Regions from separate parts of the Homo sapiens genome. Here region 1 is linked to region 2. The links come from fine-mapping of genetic effects on gene expression. Tissue or cell type: whole blood. Region 2 holds a variant in brackets; the other region holds the start of a gene. All regions are shown on one strand. Distances are between the middles of the regions.

Evidence for each region. PIP is the estimated chance that this variant, and not a neighbour inherited with it, causes the effect.
Region 1: STX6 starts here. The variant in region 2 is fine-mapped to the expression of STX6 in whole blood (TOPMed, PIP above 0.99).

The regions. Positions count from the first base shown.
Region 1 is chr1:181,018,345-181,026,524 of GRCh38, reverse strand. STX6 (syntaxin 6) reads left to right here and starts at 3,655. Exons shown (of 8, transcript NM_005819.6): 1 at 3,655-3,886. The coding sequence starts at 3,852. RefSeq lists silencers at 3,374-3,473, 3,594-3,723 and an enhancer at 3,132-3,915.
Region 2 is chr1:181,044,794-181,052,973 of GRCh38, reverse strand. It overlaps MR1 (major histocompatibility complex, class I-related), which reads right to left. Exons shown (of 6, transcript NM_001385161.1): 2 at 3,662-3,922; 3 at 2,688-2,963; 4 at 464-739. Among named protein-coding and RNA genes, the nearest start is that of MR1, 15 kb to the right of the region's middle. RefSeq lists enhancers at 6,311-6,813, 8,132-8,180 and a silencer at 7,931-8,080. The variant C/T (reference allele first, on the strand shown) is at 4,562.

The DNA.
Region 1 (8,180 bases), 26 kb after region 2:
GAAAGCTCAGAGTTGGCATGTCAACCTCCCCCAGAAAAATGAACAGAAGTTAAGTCCAATTAAGAGTTTCGGTTTGAGGAATTCTGACAAATGATACTCTCATGTAACACACACTCCGTCAAGATACAGAGCATTTCTAGTACCCAAGAAAGTTTCCCTTCCCAGTCAAACTCTGTCCCCCAAGACAACCACTGTTTTGATTTTTTATTCCCTGAGAAATTTAAATTATTCTTTTGGGTTGGGGGTGGGGTAGGGGTGGGGGTGTGGGAAGAGATGGGTTTTTGCTGAGTATTCTTCCCAACCTATTGTTTATGCCAGGACGTGGGTCCTATTAAATGAAAAAAAAAAAAAAGAAAGAAAGAAAGAACCTCCTTTGTTTCTCCTTGCATTTTAGCCATAGCTTCCCTTTCCTTGTGGGCAGTGGAGGCCAAGGTCTAGTTTGAGAGAGGGTAAAGGAGGGTGACACATTAAAGAAAGGAACACCTACACACACACACACACATACACACATTTTATATCTTGACACTCCACTATCTCCATTGTTGGTGCTTTTTCTAATCCCCTAATTATGGGAACCCAAGCCTCTGTCCTCTATCTTCTATTACTACTTATAAAACTCTGGCCTGTCATATGTGGTCCAATTAAGAAATTCATGGAACAGATAATAAGAGGCCGTGTCAGGCACTTAGGTGATAATAACATTAACATAGTATCCTGTCCCTCCAGGAGTTTACTGTTTGGTGGGGATAAATGACATGCTAACAGCTAATTTACATTCACCCTAAATCAAATCCTCCTCTTGTGTTCTCTTTCTTGATGGTTGGAACCAACACTACCCATTTACAACCCCAGAAGCCTTCCTCCCTCTTCTTTCATCAATTCCCCCATACCCTGAACCAATCAGTCACCAAGTATACTAACTTTGCCTCTAAAGTATGTCTCAAATGCATCACTCTTCTCCACCTTAGTTGTCACAAGCCCAGCTCAGGATACCCTCATCCCTCCTCTGGACCATAACCTCCTAGCCACTGAAGCATCTGTCTCAAATGCCAATCTGACCCTGTCAATTCCCTCAGTCCCCATGGGGAACTGTCCATAGGAAGCGTCCACTATTCTGAACATTACAAACAAGGGCCCTGATAATCTGACCCTGTCCACCTCCAGGCTTAGCTCCTGCTGCCCCCATCCTTTTCCTTCTACTCCAGCAACATGGCCCCCTTCTCCTGGCTGCTTCTAGTCACTGCTTAGGAACCCCCTGCCCCAGCCCCGAAAACACACAAATATACTGGTATCTTGTCGCTGTGTTTCTATGGCAACCTGTGCCCTTCTCTCACTGTGTGTCTCTCCCACCAGTCTGTCTCTCCCACCAGTCTGACAGTTCCTTGAAGGCAAGAACCAAGCCTTGTTCATGCCTGTGTCTCAGTGCTTAGCACACAGTAGGAGCACAACATGTGTCAGGCACTGTTTTAAGCACTTTTCACACATCACCTCATGACACTCTATAAGGAAGCTGTTATTACGGTGTCTATTTCACAGTTGAGGATAGTGAGAGATGAAGCGGCTTGCCTGAGATGCAACAGTCAGGAAGCAGCAGAACTCAAGCAATCAGACTCCAAGGATGGTCTTCAACACCATGCTCACCTACCCCTCAATTTACATGTGCTTGTTGAATGAATGAACGATGACACGTTTTCACCTCCCCAGCTAAGTAAATTAAACAGTTCTCTCCCAATAAACATTAGCAATCACTAGTATTGGACACTGCTTCCTTTCCCCACATCTGCCTTCCATCATTCGCTCCTCCAGGGATTTTGGCTTTCACCCCTCTCTTCTCTCCCCTCCTGAAACCCATTCAGCCCCTCATCATGTCTAGGTGTTTAGTCTTGTTTTCCTTTTGAAACATCTGTCAGATTCACTCCTTCTCTGTTCTCAATCGCTGTCATCCTGGTCTGGACCTCATCCCTTCAGGCCACATGACTTTAGCAGCGTCCTTACTGGTTTTCCTGACTTCAGTAACTTAGTCCTTTGGGATCTTGAGGTTTACACACATTTTTATTTAACCATCACAACAACCCATGAACTAGCTATTATTATTTATGTTTTATAGATGAGGAACTGAATGATAGAGCCAAGGTTTAAACGGGGTTTGTGTTGCTCCAAGGACTGTGCCAGCTCCAGACTGGTGACCTTGGGCAAGTCACTTAACCTCCGAGTCTCAGATTTCTCATTTATAAAATGGGCATGATAGCAGTAATTATCACATTGTAAGAGCAACTGAGATAACACTTAACATCCTGCCTGACACACACACACAGTAAGTGCTCAATGATTTTCAGCAATCAAAGTCCACAATCCCCATCCACAAATTTCATAGCATATCTAGCATATGAGTTGGTTAATGGTTCTGGGCAAAATGTTTTCTCGAATAGCTCTTGAACCACAGTGAGAGGAAGTTGTCATACCTGGCCCCTTCTTTATTCCTCGAAGGTGTGCTCTCCTGGGAAGCACCATATGCTGTATGAAAAATTACTTTACATGGTTATTTGCAGAATGTACAGCAACAGAAAGTACACCCCATCTGGTGGAAAGTGCACAGAATCTGCAGTTCTGCCCTGTCCAGGCTGTGTGACTACAGGAAGTCTTCAAGCCTCTCTGAACTTATTTTCTTATCTACAAAATGAGAAAAATGGATGGTGTGGTGGCTCACGCCCATAATCCCACCACTTTGGGAGGCAGAGGCAGGAGGATCATGTGAGCTCAGGTGTTCAAGGCCAGCCTAGGAAATATACTGAGAGCCCCATCTCTATAAAAAATTTAAAAATTAGCCGGGCGTGGTGGCGCTCACCTGTAGTCCCAGCTACTCGGGAGGCTGAGGCCGGAGGATCGCTTGAGCCCAGGAGGTCAAGGGTGCAGTGAGCTGTGATTGTGCCACTACACTCCAGCCAGGGTGACAGAGAGAGACCCTGCCCCCCAAAAAGGGGGAGGGGGGAATAATACTTTCCCCCAAAGGATACTGAGATGATGCATACACAACCTTTAGCACACTGTCCAACACAAAGCAAGACCTACTTAAAGGATCTGTGTAACATTATAATCAGATACTATGCTTCATTTTAAGTCGAGGACCAGATAGATTTATAAATTACATACTGTCAAAATTAAGTATTAAAAGTAGAGGAAAGGTAAGAGGATTTTGCAAATCAGGTACAACTACAGCTTATCCTGAAAAGCCGACTGCCTAGTTCTGAGGGAACAAGCCACTCCTCACCCTCAAGCTTGAGGAGAGGGCTGTAGAAGCCCGCCCACCTCCACCGCCCCGAGGGCTCCGCCTCCAGGGCCGAGGGACGCAGGCGTAAGCCCCGCCCACTGGGGGGGGGGGGAGAGAGAGAGAGAGAGAGAGAGAGAGAGAGAGAGAGAGAGGAGAGAGAGGAGAGAGAGGAGAGAGAGGAGAGAGAGGAGAGAGAGGAGAGAGAGGAGAGAGAGAGAGAGAGAGAGATATATGCCCTGGTCACGTGAGCGGGGTGCGGAAGTCGTGTTTCAGGCGGCGTTCGTGATTGGCCGCGGCCGAGGGTCCCGGGGGTGGGGTCAGGCCCTCCGACGCTTCGGGAGGAGCCGGGACTGGAGGCTGCCGAGGGGGCCGGCGCCCGAGTCCGGGATTCGGCCAGTGGTGCTGAGCGAGTGCTGGACCAGCGGCCGTCCTGTGCACCTGGCCTGTGCGCGTGCCCGCTGCTCGGCTTCACCCAGACTAAGGCGCGGGCAGCTGCGGGAACAGGCGGGGTGGGCGGAGGGAGACCGGGAGGCACGGGCGCCCTGTGCGCGGAGGAGGTGAAGGCGGCCGGGGCCGGGACGCCATGTCCATGGAGGACCCCTTCTTTGTGGTGAAAGGGTGAGTGTCGGCCGAGCGCTCCACCGGAGGAAGAGGTGGCGGTGCTGCCTGCCCGCACCTCCTAGGTCTTCTCGCAGTGGGGGGAGGGGAGGCAAGTTGGAGCTGGGGAGGGGGAACAGTGGAGACGGCTTAGTCTTGAGGGCCATGACCAAGCGTCAAGAGACGTTCCCTCCATCCCTACCTGGACCGTGAAGCCACTGTCCCCAGCCAAGCCCCTGGTGGTGGGGGGCCCTTTTTGGCCTGTGTGCTGCGGTACAATTTATTTGGGGGCCGAGGGGCTCAGCAGCTCTGCAGGTGGGGAAGGAGACACGCGGGTCCTGGCGCACACTGGCCGTCTAGTCGAGCATGGGATCTTGCTTCGAAGGAGCGAAAACAGCATCTGGGCAGGAAAAGGGAAATGGCCCTCCTGAGCTTTGTAGTTCGCGTTGACGGGGGTGAGCTCCATTGTCCATTGAGTTTGGAGCGCTTGTCCGCAGACTGGCGAGACCACAACAAGCCCAGAGGCGTCTGAGCACGTTTGCTGGGAGGGAGGCGGGGGCGGGGGCCGTTCTGGGAGGCTGGGGAGCAGGGCACCGGAAGACAATTCAATGGGGGAGTTTTTACTGAGTAATGTGAGGAGAGGAAAGCAGTCGTTCATACTCAGTGATGATTTGGAAGGAAAACAAAATGAAACAAGCCAAACCAAACTTTCCTCAGCTTTCTATTAGCAACCGGAATTTTCTCACAGTGCTAAAGGAAATGAGTGTTGCTTGTTAACTCCTTGATTTCATCCAGGTTGTTTGACAGGTTTCTCCTATTTCTTCTGCCTTTCAGAATAGAAAGGACTGCCTTCTGTTCCCTTACAAGCTATCCTAGCTCATCTTTGATTGCTCGATTGTTTCTTTGGAGATAGAGTCTTCAACTGCACTTTGTAATATCCACTTCGTAGCCATTAAACACATGCAAGAAGATCAATTCTGATGTAACTTTTAGTTTCTTATTAGAAACTTGTCAGTTTTCTGTTTTAAATGTCAAACATGAAAAATCTGAAAACTGCAAAGTTCCCAGGTCAGTACTGATCACCACAGAATGTCCCTTGCTTTTTACTAGTTGCTGCTAGCTTCCTATTTCTGTAGTGGTGCAAGCTGGCCGTTGTATAGTCAAGTGTTGTAGAAAATTTAAATGGTATTTTAGGTGAAATACTTTATCGATTATGCAGTAAAATACATTTATACTACTTCTTAATATTTCCCTGGAAAGTTTTTTTTCTTCACCTTACTCTAATTTAGATGGGAAAATGCTGAGTTGTAAATTTACTGGTAATATGTGTATCCCTACCTAGAAAATGTGATATTTATTAGAAGGATTGATTTAGGGGTTAATTTTTAAAATAGATGTTTTTTCCTTGATTGAAAGTTCTTAATGCTTAGGTTGGCAAAGGTTATCTCTGGCGGTAGAGATCAGAGATGATCAGAAATTTTTTGTTTGACTTTTTATGGAATTTGTCAAAAGCCTAAATTCTTCTGTCTTGGCATTTTTTTTTCTTGATGGTATCCTATACAGTCTACTAATGCTTGCTCACTGATTAAATATCACTACTTTATCGGAACATTGGCTTGGAGGGAGTTTTGATTGATTTTTACATCATTTTAGCTCCTATCTTTAAGGTTCTTGAAGGAAAAGAGATTCTCAGTTCCTTCTGCTGTGGAAAGGTAAAGTCACCCATGAAGGTGTATCCAGATTTTTGGGGAGTCATGTACCTGTGTTTATTAAAAGTATCAAAAATGCATTACACAGCATGCAAAAATTAAAGGTGCCTAAATTATGGCCCTTAGCCTAGGAGCTTCTGGTCTAATCTGAGAAACAAATTACCCCAAAATTAAATAGAAATGACAGGTGGCAAATGAATGAGTGTTGAAGTGAATGCTACAGATAAGTGCCTCAGGAGTTCAGAGAAAGGTAACTCCTTGGGAATTGTTAGGATTAGGAGAGCTTTTGGAGGCAGTAGTGTATCTTGAATTAGGTTTTGAAGATGGGCAGAATTTAGATAATCAGGCCTGTCTCTCTTACCTGGATGCTTATCAGAGTCTTTTTAATTGTTCTTCCTGCTTCTGGTCTCATTTCCTCTTTCAGCTGTCCTGGGATCTATTGGATCATTGCTGTCCAATAGAAGTATAATGCCAGCCATGTATGTCATTTTACATTTTCTAGTAGCCGCAGTAAAATATAAAGGAACAGGTGAAATTAATTCTAATGTAATCTCTAATACATTCAAAATATTCAACATGTGATTAAAGATTATTGATGAGATATTTTACTTTTGTACTAAGTCTTCTAAATCTGATACATATTTTACACTTACTGCACATTTAAATTTGGACATTAAATTTTCATCAGAAATAATTGATCTGTATTTAAAGTTCATTAAATACATTTTTTTTTTTTGAGACAGAGTCTTGTTCTGTTGCCCAGACTGGAGTGCAGTGGTGCAATCACGGCTCACTGCAACCTCTGCCTCCCAGGTTCAAGCGATTCTTGCACCTCAGCCTCCTGAGTAGCTGGGACTATAGGTGTGTACCACCTCACCTGGCTAATTTTTGTATTTTTAGGACTATGGGCAGGGCACCCGCCACCACGCCCGGCTAATTTTTTGTATTTTTTAGTAGAGACGGGGTTTCACCATGTTAGCCAGGATGGTCTCGATCTCCTGACCTTGTGATCCACCTGTCTCGGCCTCCCAAAGTGCTGTGATTACAGGCGTGAGCCACCGCGCCCGGCCTACATACTCTTTAATTGTTCCAAACATACATAAAAGGTTTTTGATAACTGAATTGCTATCAGTTACCAAGTTTACATTAATTAAAATTTAATTTCTGTCACACTAGCCACATTTCCAGTCAGTAGTTGTATGTGGCTTCCGTGTTGGACAGCACAGTGTAAGCTTTTCTAGAGTCCTAGACAGGTGTACCCTACTTAATATTATTCAGTGGCTGCTGCTGGCCTGCAGAATAAAGTGCCAACACTTCCTGACCTCACTGATCTAGCCTCTGCTCTCCCTTAGCCTTAGTACTCCAGCAGTGCCAGACTCAATACAGTGACTGTGATTGCTGTACTGGATGCTCTTACTCTACATGCACCCACACTGCCTGATTCACCCACGCAGCTTTCTGGAGTCAGTGTAAGCATCTCCCTTGCCTCCAGGAAGTGCTTCCTTTGTCACCCCTAATTATTGGACCTCTTCCTCTGTCTCTCTTTCATTATTAGACTATGAGCTCTGAGGTTTGGGACTGTTTTTTTTTTTTTTTTCCTCTGTATTTCCAGCCTACACCTTGAATATATAGTGTAAATGTTGAACACATACTCTTTGTTGATGGTGGTGATTGTGATGGAATGGTGCCTCATGGGTGAGAACACCACCAGCCAAAGGCCTAAGTTGGGCAATGTGTGTTAGAAATGATCTGGAAGAGCAGCCCAGGTGGAGTAGACAGTTTAGGGAAGTAGTAACAGCTCACATTTAAAGGATGCATCTCCAGTGCCAGGCATACATGTAAAGTGCTAAGTAAGCACTTTATATGAATTTTCACTCTGTAAAAACACCCATATGATGAATACTAGCCACATTTTAGAGATGAGAAGCTGAGGAAGTGTTAGAGGGGTTAACTTACTTGCCTAGGGTCACACAGCTAATAAGTGGTGTACTCAGGCTTCAAATTAGAACAACCTGATTTCACACTACTGTCAATACTTCCCAGTGCAGGTAAAATAGGGTCAAGTTATGTTGGCCTAAGGAGAATCTCATCTTGAGGCCATTACAGATTTTTAAAGCAAGGAAATGACATGAAATTAGGATTTTAGGAATATTGATTTGGTGGTAGTGTTGGATGCATCAGTGTGAGGAAAGATGAAAAAGGAGACCAGTTAGAAAGCTGTTGTAACTTATACATGCAGTGGTTAGTGCTTGGAAGTTTGAAGCTCCTTTTGGGAGGTTTTGACATTGTCAATGTCCTGTTCGGAACAGAATCCCACAACAGGGATTGCTCTTTTATCCTTATGAAGTAGGTATTATTATTGTCATCATTTCACAAAAAGGAAAATGAAACTTAGTAAAAAACTTCAACTTTATAAGCTTGTACGTAGAAGGGCCAGGATTTATATATTTATTACAAATATATATTATATATATAATATGGTCATTTTAAAAATTGGGATTATACGTTATATATGGTTTTATCACTTTTTCTTTTCTTTTTTTTTTTTTTTTTTTTTTTTTTGGGACAGAGTCTTACTCTGTCGCCCAGGCTGGAGTGCAATGGCG
Region 2 (8,180 bases):
CCTGCCTCAGCCTCCAGGAGCTGGGATTACAGGCATGCGCCACCATGCCTGGCTAATTTTTGTATTTTTAGTAGAGATGGGGTTTCACCATGTTGGCCAGGCTGGTCTCGAACTCCTGACCTCAAGTGATCCACCTGCCTCAGCCTCCCAAAGTGCTGGGATTACAGGCATGAGCCACTGCACCCATTCGTGTTTAATTTTTAAATTTTTAATTTGTAATGTAGTAAATAGCAATAGATATAACCCACATCAGCAAAAGCTCTCTGGGGTCCTCAATAATTTTTTAATAGTATGAAGGCGTCCTGGTTCCAAAAAGTGTGAGAACCACTTATTTAAAAGACCCATTCTAAGGCACACTGAGTGAGGCAGTGATCTATCCTCCCCTCCCTGGCAGCGAGCATGGTTTCCTGCTCACCCCTTTCTCCAGGCTCTCTCCCTAGACAGCCACGATCCCCGTCCTTACCCTGGGGGACCTGAAGAACCATGTGGACACCGCAGTGCTCCACATGACAGGAGTAAAGGTTGCTGCTCTGAGGATCAAGCTCAATTGATGCCCACGCCTGATAGGTTCCATCCCCACTGGGAAGAATGTCTCCATAATCAATTTCTTGGACAATTTCTTCCCCGTTTTTCATCCATGTCATGTAAATTTCTGGGGGGTAAAAGCCATGAGCTTTGCAGAAGAGAGCTGTAACCCCTGGAAAAGTTTCTTTGCGATTTACTCTGACCAGTGGGGGCTCTAGGAAGAAGAAGCTAAAGTTAAATCAAAGTGCCTTATGTACTGAGCATATAATATTAGAACTTGGCAACTGGCTTTCCTAATTTTTCTTTATTGCAGGAAACTTCTAAAGCTAAGAATGACCCAGAACTCAGGTTCATCAACAACAAACGTATTTACGTATACCTTCCATGATGGCAAGGTGCTAGGTAGTGAAGAATGTGGAGTTGGCCCATGCTCCATCCTCTAAGGGGGGAAAGTCATACAGCTTTGACTGTTTGGAAAGTGTGCTGGGGTTGTTTACTAGTAACCTTTGAAATACCTTTATGTGTCAAGGAAAACTGACCCATAAAATGTGTAAGTGACTGTTCCCAATAAGTAAGTCAGCAATAGATTGGAGATTAGAACTCCTTGTTCTCATTTCTGTGTTTAGTGCACGTAAATAACACAGCCATCCCCACTCAGTTTTGGCTCCGAATTGCCTTGTGTACTTGCGCTGGCATTTTGATGACTGCCATCAGGTACAAACATATGTAGTAGATCATGCCATGGTTGTGCCTTCGAAGAAACTGATATCATAGAAGGGCTCCAGCAGTGACACCAAAGAAGTACCCACGTGTGACCTTGCTTCCTCATGACTACTCTTAATTTTCCATACAGTCCTGTCCTTAATGTTTCTTGCTGAAATTGGGTCAAACAGCCATACCGAGACCAAAGGCACTATCTGGGGGGGACTGCTTCCTGCTCATCTCTGACTTGCCTCCTGACCCCCACCTTATCATCGGCCAACCCAATACGGAGAAGAGCCTTCACTCCAACAATGCTTTCCTTGTCTCTTTACCGAGGCATGATATTTGGTAGTAGAAAAAGGCTTTCCAACATTAAAAGTAAAATAAATGCTACTAGGAGGGACTGTGCTTTTTGATAGGGCCTGTAAGAAATTAATCCAAGATCCTTTTCTAGGAATGTGTTTTTTCTTTTCTTTTTTTTTTTTGTTTGTTTTTTTAGGAGTGTGTTTTGACCAAAAGGTTGAAAATCCATTAGGACACTGAATGTAGACAGAGGCCTGGAGAGGGGAGCTTCCCATACTCTTCCCACACACATTGTATCTAGGAGTTTCCTGTAGCATCATACAGGTGTGATTAATTTTGAATAACAAGACCATACATGAAAAGTTCTATATGAACTAAAAGTTGACCAACTGAATCATATCTTTAAGGTATAAGAGGAGCTCTTTGCTGAAAGGAATCTTATCATTAATACTTTTTTTTTTTTTTAAATAGGGTCTTGCTCTGTGACCCAGGCTGATCATGATCATGGCTCACTGCAGCCTTGACCTTCCAGGCTCAAGAGATCCTCCCACCTCAGCCTCCTGAGTATCTGGGACTACAGTCATGTGCCACCATGCTCAGCTAATTTTTTTTTTAATAGAGACAGGGTCTCACAATGTTACCCAGGCCAGTCTTAAACTCCTGGCCTTAAGCAATCCTCCTGCCTCAGCCTCCCAAAGTGCTAGGATTACAGGCATGAGCCATCATGCCCAACCTCATTAATCCTTTAGTAAAGCAGAGACCTTCTGTTTGTCTTGGTAAATCCAGATTTTTACTCCTACTGGTGGTGTGTGAGCCCTTTGTTAACTAAACAGTTTGTAAGAATTGCTCTATCTCCCAAAGAATTTCCCAGCTTATCATTGACGGAATGGAAGAATTTGCCTCAATAGATCCCTAAAAACAAGGTGCCCTTGGAGGTACTCCACTCTGTCAAGACAAGGGGAACTGTCAAATCTTGTCAAGATGCTGCTCAAAAGTAACCAGGGAAAGTTTTCGTGGGGGCTCTAGCCATGAGATCACAATAGGCCAACTAAAGAGATGGCTTTCAGGATACAGTGGATATAACCTAGATTAAAAGAGTTACGTATAAAAACAGTTGTTCAGGCAATGTGGGAATGAGGCCTTCTCTTTCTCTTTACCTGTTCTTTGTAGGGTGTCTTTCCCATACTCCAGGAATCTCTTTAGCCAGGCAATACATTCTTCTTCCAGCCAATTCTTTTGATACAGCAACTCATGCTGATTGGCCTCCCATGCCTGCTTGATGGTGTGAGCCACATTATCTACAGCCAGCCAGGAGAGGGTGTCTTTATTGAAGATCAGGAAATCCTGCCCGTCATATGCATACTGCAGAAATCCTGTGGTGCTTCCATCCTCCAGCAGCTCACAGCCAATCATTCTCTGGTAAGTGTGAGACCCTGGAACACACACAGAAGCCCAGAGGGGTCCACACAGAGACAGAGGTGGGCTCTCAAGTGCTGGGAGCAGGGGCATGGCTGGAAGCATCCTTTGGTCTACATTATGTCACCCCCCAGGCCTGCCATGGCATCGCTGAGTCCCCAGGAGGTCCCCCTTATGGAAGCCCACCTGTCAGCAGGTATCTGTGAAGTACCTACTGCCTGTCAAAGGAGTGTGCTAATTCCCGCCTTGGGGAGTTATCCTGTAATGGGAATGACTGATAAACTTTGTGGCTATTCTGACTGCAGTGGAGGAGGGAGAGAGATGCAGGAGCCAGAAATACCCCTGGGAAAGTTACTGTCGATACTCATAAGCAAGTCACTAGGCCTGACTACCAGGAAGTGAGACGCAGAATGGGCAAATTTAGAATGGAAAAGGAGATGCATATCAGAAGCCTGAGTGGAAATGGGATGCAGATACGGATACAGAGATGGGGAAGAGTGGGTGGGGCAAATGACAGAGTGCTCCTGGGGGAGAGAGGGACAGTCCAGAAGATGCACAGGCAGATGGGAGGCCCTGAACTCCACCAACCTGATTCCTCAGGCTTTGCCAAAGCTACAGCAGGTGCAATTCAGCATCCGCTTATTGGAGGCCAGCCCAGGGGTCTCTGCGGGTTGGGGTGGGATGGGGGAAGCGTCTGTCTCTGCCGCATGCACACCTGAGTGATTGTAGTGCCTCTGTAGGCGCTTCAGTTCCACCTTGAACATCTGCTGCCAGCCCCTCAGCAGCTGAGTGTACCTCTCCCAGTGATCAGGCGCGAGGTTCTCTGCCATCCATGGGGCCCGTGGCTCCTTCTGCCGAGTGACACTGTCATATGTGGTGATAGGGTGCGAGTCCACGTACCCAACCGAAATAAATTCAGGGACCCCATGGATGGGATCCGAAACGCCCAGGCGAAAATATCTCAGAGAGTGCGTCCCTGGAAAGGAGGCAAAGAAGGAAGACATGTAGGGTCCCAGATGATCCAGATCCTTCAACTGCATTCATTTAGCCCCACACGAGTGCTCCCTACTCAGCTGTACCCAGGCCTCCACGCCCCAGCTGCCATTTCCTCTTACAGAACCACAGAACCCAGGAACCGGGGCCTGGACAGGACGTAAGAGCTCCAGACCAGTGACTTGGAGCCTTTCTCGTTCAGGTTTGCAAATGCAGGATGGAATTTTATAGGTAATCTCAACTTGTAGACAAAATATAGAGTGCTGCTATGGTTGTAGGGGGAAGGGAGAAGACCACTCATTGGGGATACAGGGGGAGCTGTCCCTGCGGGAGCCCTCGGGAACTCTGAAGGCTTGAAAACCCTGATGACGCAGCCTTCTTCTTTTACCAAAGAAGCCTCTGGTGAATAAATGAGGACCCCCACTCCACCTCTGTGTGTGCACGTGTGGGCATATACACACAGGCACACAAACACATGCACTGAGCATTTTTTTTTTTTTGAGATGGAGTCTTGCTCTGTTGCCCAGGCTGGAGTGCAATGGCACGATCTCTGTTCACTGCAACCTCCGCCTCCTGGGTTCAAGTGATTGTCCTGCTCCAGCCTCCCAGGTAGCTGAGATTA[C/T]AGGCACACACCACCACGCCTGGCTAATTTTTTGTAGTTTTAGTAGAGTCAGTGTTTCATCATGTTGGCCAGGCTGGTCTCAAACTCCTGACCTCATGATCTGCACACCTCGGCCTCCCAAAGTGCTGGGATTATAGGCATGAGCCACTGCGCCTGGCCGAAATTTATTTATTTATTTTATTTTATTTATTTTTTTGAGATGGAGTCTTGCTCTGTTGCCCAGGCTGGAGTGCAGTGGCACAAACTCGGCTCACTGCAACCTCCGCCTACCGGGTTCAAGCAATTCTCTGCCCCAGCCTCCAAAATAGCTGGGATAACAGGCACTGGTCACCACGCCTGGCTAATTTTTTTGTATTTTTAGTAGAGACAGGGTTTCACCATCTTGCCCAGGCTGGTCTTGTACTCCTGACCTCGTGATCCACCCACCTCGGCCTCCCAAAGTGCTGGGATTACAGGCGTGAGCCACCGCGCCTGGCCTATTTATTTTATTTATTTTTTATTTTTTATTTTTTAGAGACAGAGTCTCACTCTGTCGCCCAGGCTGGAGTGCAGTGGCATGATCTTGGCTTACTACAACCTCTGCCTTCTGGGTTCAAGTGATTCTCCTGCCTCAGCCTCCTGAGTAGCTGGGACTACAGGCGCGTGCCACCATGCCCAGCTAATTTTTGTATATTTTTAAAGTAGAGATGGGGTTTCACCATATTGACCAGGCTGGTCTCAAACTCCTGACCTCGTGATCCGCCTGCCTTGGCCTCCCAAAGTGCTGGGATTATGGGCGTGAACCACCGTGCCCAGCCTATTTATTTATTTTTTTGAGACAGAGTCTCACTCTGTTGCCCAGGCTGGAGTGCAGTGGCGTGACCTTGGCTCACTGCAACCTCTGCCTCCTGGGTTCAAGTGATTCTCCTGCCTCAGCCTACTGAGTAGCTGAGATTACAGGTATGTGCCAGCATGCCTGGCTAATTTTTGTATTTTTAGTAAAAACAGGGTTTTGCCATGTTAGTCAGGCTGGTCTCGAATTCCTGACCTCATGATCTGCCCACCTCGGCCTCCCAAATTGCTGGGATTACAGGTGTGAGCCACCATGGCCGGCCGAAATTTTTTTTTTTTTTAAAGCACAGTGCTTTTCCTATTATGTCAAACCACTGCTGTTAACCATTTTCTTATTCTTTTTCTACTTACTAGTTATAAGGATTGTAATAAGGGTTAAAAGTAAACCAAAATGAAACAAAACTGTTTGGCCCTCCCTGCTGTTCCCACATTGAACTTCTCTCCGCTTGTCCAAGAAGCTTAGGGCCTGACGGAGACAAAGTGGTTTCAAGGTGGCATTATGGGTGGTGGTGTGTCCGCAATTGGTGGGTTCTTGGTGTCACTGACTTCAAGAATGAAGCCGTGGACCCTCGCGGTGAGTGTTACAGCTCTTAAGGTGGCGCGTCTGGAGTTTTTTCCTTCTGATGTTCGGATGTGTTTGGAGTTTCTTCTTTCTGTTGGGTTGGTGCTCTCGCTGGCTCAGGAGTGAAGCTGCAGACCTTCGCAGTGAGTGTTACAGCTCTAAAGGCGGTGCGTCTGGAGTTGTTCGTTCCTCCTGGTGGGCTCGTGGTCTCGCTGGCTTCAGGAGTGAAGCTGCAGACCTTCGCCATGAGTGTCACAGCTCATAAAGGCAGTGTGGACCCAAAGAGTGAGCAGCAGCAGGATTTATTGCAAAGAGCGAAACAACAAAGCTTCCACAGTGTGGAAGCGGACCCGAGACGGTTGCCACTGCTGGCTCGGGCAGCCTGCTTTTATTCTCTTATCTGGCCCCACCCACATCCTGCTGATTGGTAGAGCCCAGTGGTCTGTTTTGACAGGGCACTGATTGGTGCGTTTACCATCCCTCAGCTAGACACAAAGGTTCTCCACGTCCCCACCAGATTAGCTAGATACAGTGTCCACACAAAGGTTCTCCAAGTCCCCACCAGAGTAGCTAGATGCAGAGTGTCGATTGGTGCAGTCACAAACCCTGAGCTAGACACAGGGTGCTGATTGGTGTTTACAAACCTTGAGCTAGATACAGAGTGCCGATTGGTGTATTTACAATCCCTTAGCTAGACATAAAGGTTCTCCACGTCCCCACCAGACTCAGGAGCCCAGCTGGCTTCACCCAGTGGATCCCCCACTGGGGCTGCAGGTGGAGCTGCCTGCCATTCCCGCGCCGTGCGCCCGCACTCCTCAGCCCTTGGGTGGTCATGGGACTGGCGCCGTGGAGCAGGGGTGGCGCTCATCGGGGAGGCTCGGGCCGCACAGAGGCCCATGGAGGGGGTGGGAGGCTCAGGCATGGCGGGCTGCAGGTCCCCAAGCCCTGCCCCGCAGGAAGGCAGCTAAGGCCCGGCGAGAAATCGAGCTGCAGCGCTGGTGGGCTGGCACTTCTGGGGGACCCAGTACACCCTCCGCAGCCGCTGGCCCGGGTGCTAAGCCCCTCATTGCCCGGGCCGGCAGGGCCGGCTGCCCCCAGTGCAGGGCCCGCCAAGCCCACGCCCACTTGGAACTCCAGCTGGCCCGCAAGCGCCGCCCGCAGCCCGGGTTCCCGCTCGCGCCTCTCCCTCCACACCTCCCTGCAAGCTGCGGGAGCGGGCTCCGGCTTTGGCCAGCCCAGAAAGGGGCTCCCACAGTGCAGCGGTGGGCTGAAGGGCTCCTCAAGTGCCGCCAAAGTGGGAGCCCAGGCAGCGGAGGCGCCAAGAGCGAGCTAGGGCTGTGAGGACTGCCAGCACGCTGTCACCTCTCAGTGTTATGGGATCCAAGCTGGTGTGGGCCCTTAGGAGAGACTTCCAGAGAAGGTGATGTCTTAGGGAGGTCTCAGGGACAGGTAGGAGGTGAGTAGGCAGAGGGGCTGGGAGGGGATGCAGGAGGGCGGGCAGGGGGAGCAGGGCAGAGACCACATGTGCAAGCAGGAGGTTCGAGAAGGCGGGGCGTGCATGGGAACCAAATGGCCTGGGACGTCTGGAGCACAGTGACAGGCGTCACGGGCAGAGGCGATGCCTGGGAGGTGGAGCCCAGGCTGAGAAGGCTACGTACCCCATGCCATCCCCAAAAGCTGGCAAATAGAAGGTATGCAGCCACAATGGCTTTCTTCCCCTACTCTGCCTGCCGGTGTCTGCAGATGCCCATGTCCAAGCCTTTTGTCCTGTTATCTCCTGCCATTCTGACCCATCTAAATCCTTCCCAGTCCTCAAAACCCACCTCCAAAAACATTTCATCCCTAAAACAGGATCATCCCTAAAATTTCATGGCTAAATTGAGATGACAGATGGAGGCTCACATACCAGAGATCCAGATATTTAAAAGGAATAAATCAATCTAACAAACTTGAAATATGTTCTATCCCCCCACCTTGAGAGATTGCCCTTTGTATGGCTTCGAAGACCAAGTTCAAATTAAAAAATCTCACACTGTGTGAAGTTCTGGGCCTGAATGGGGCGGCACAGAGAAAGCTGGTGTCTCCCTCCAGTCCCCGGCCCTCAGCCTGAGACTCACCTCTTTTTCTTCCTGTTTCTTGCTCCTTCCAGCACTGCCAAGGGCCTCCCACAATTAAACACCTCTACTTTTTTATTCAGGCTCAGCCACAAACTGCCTCTTGTCTGAG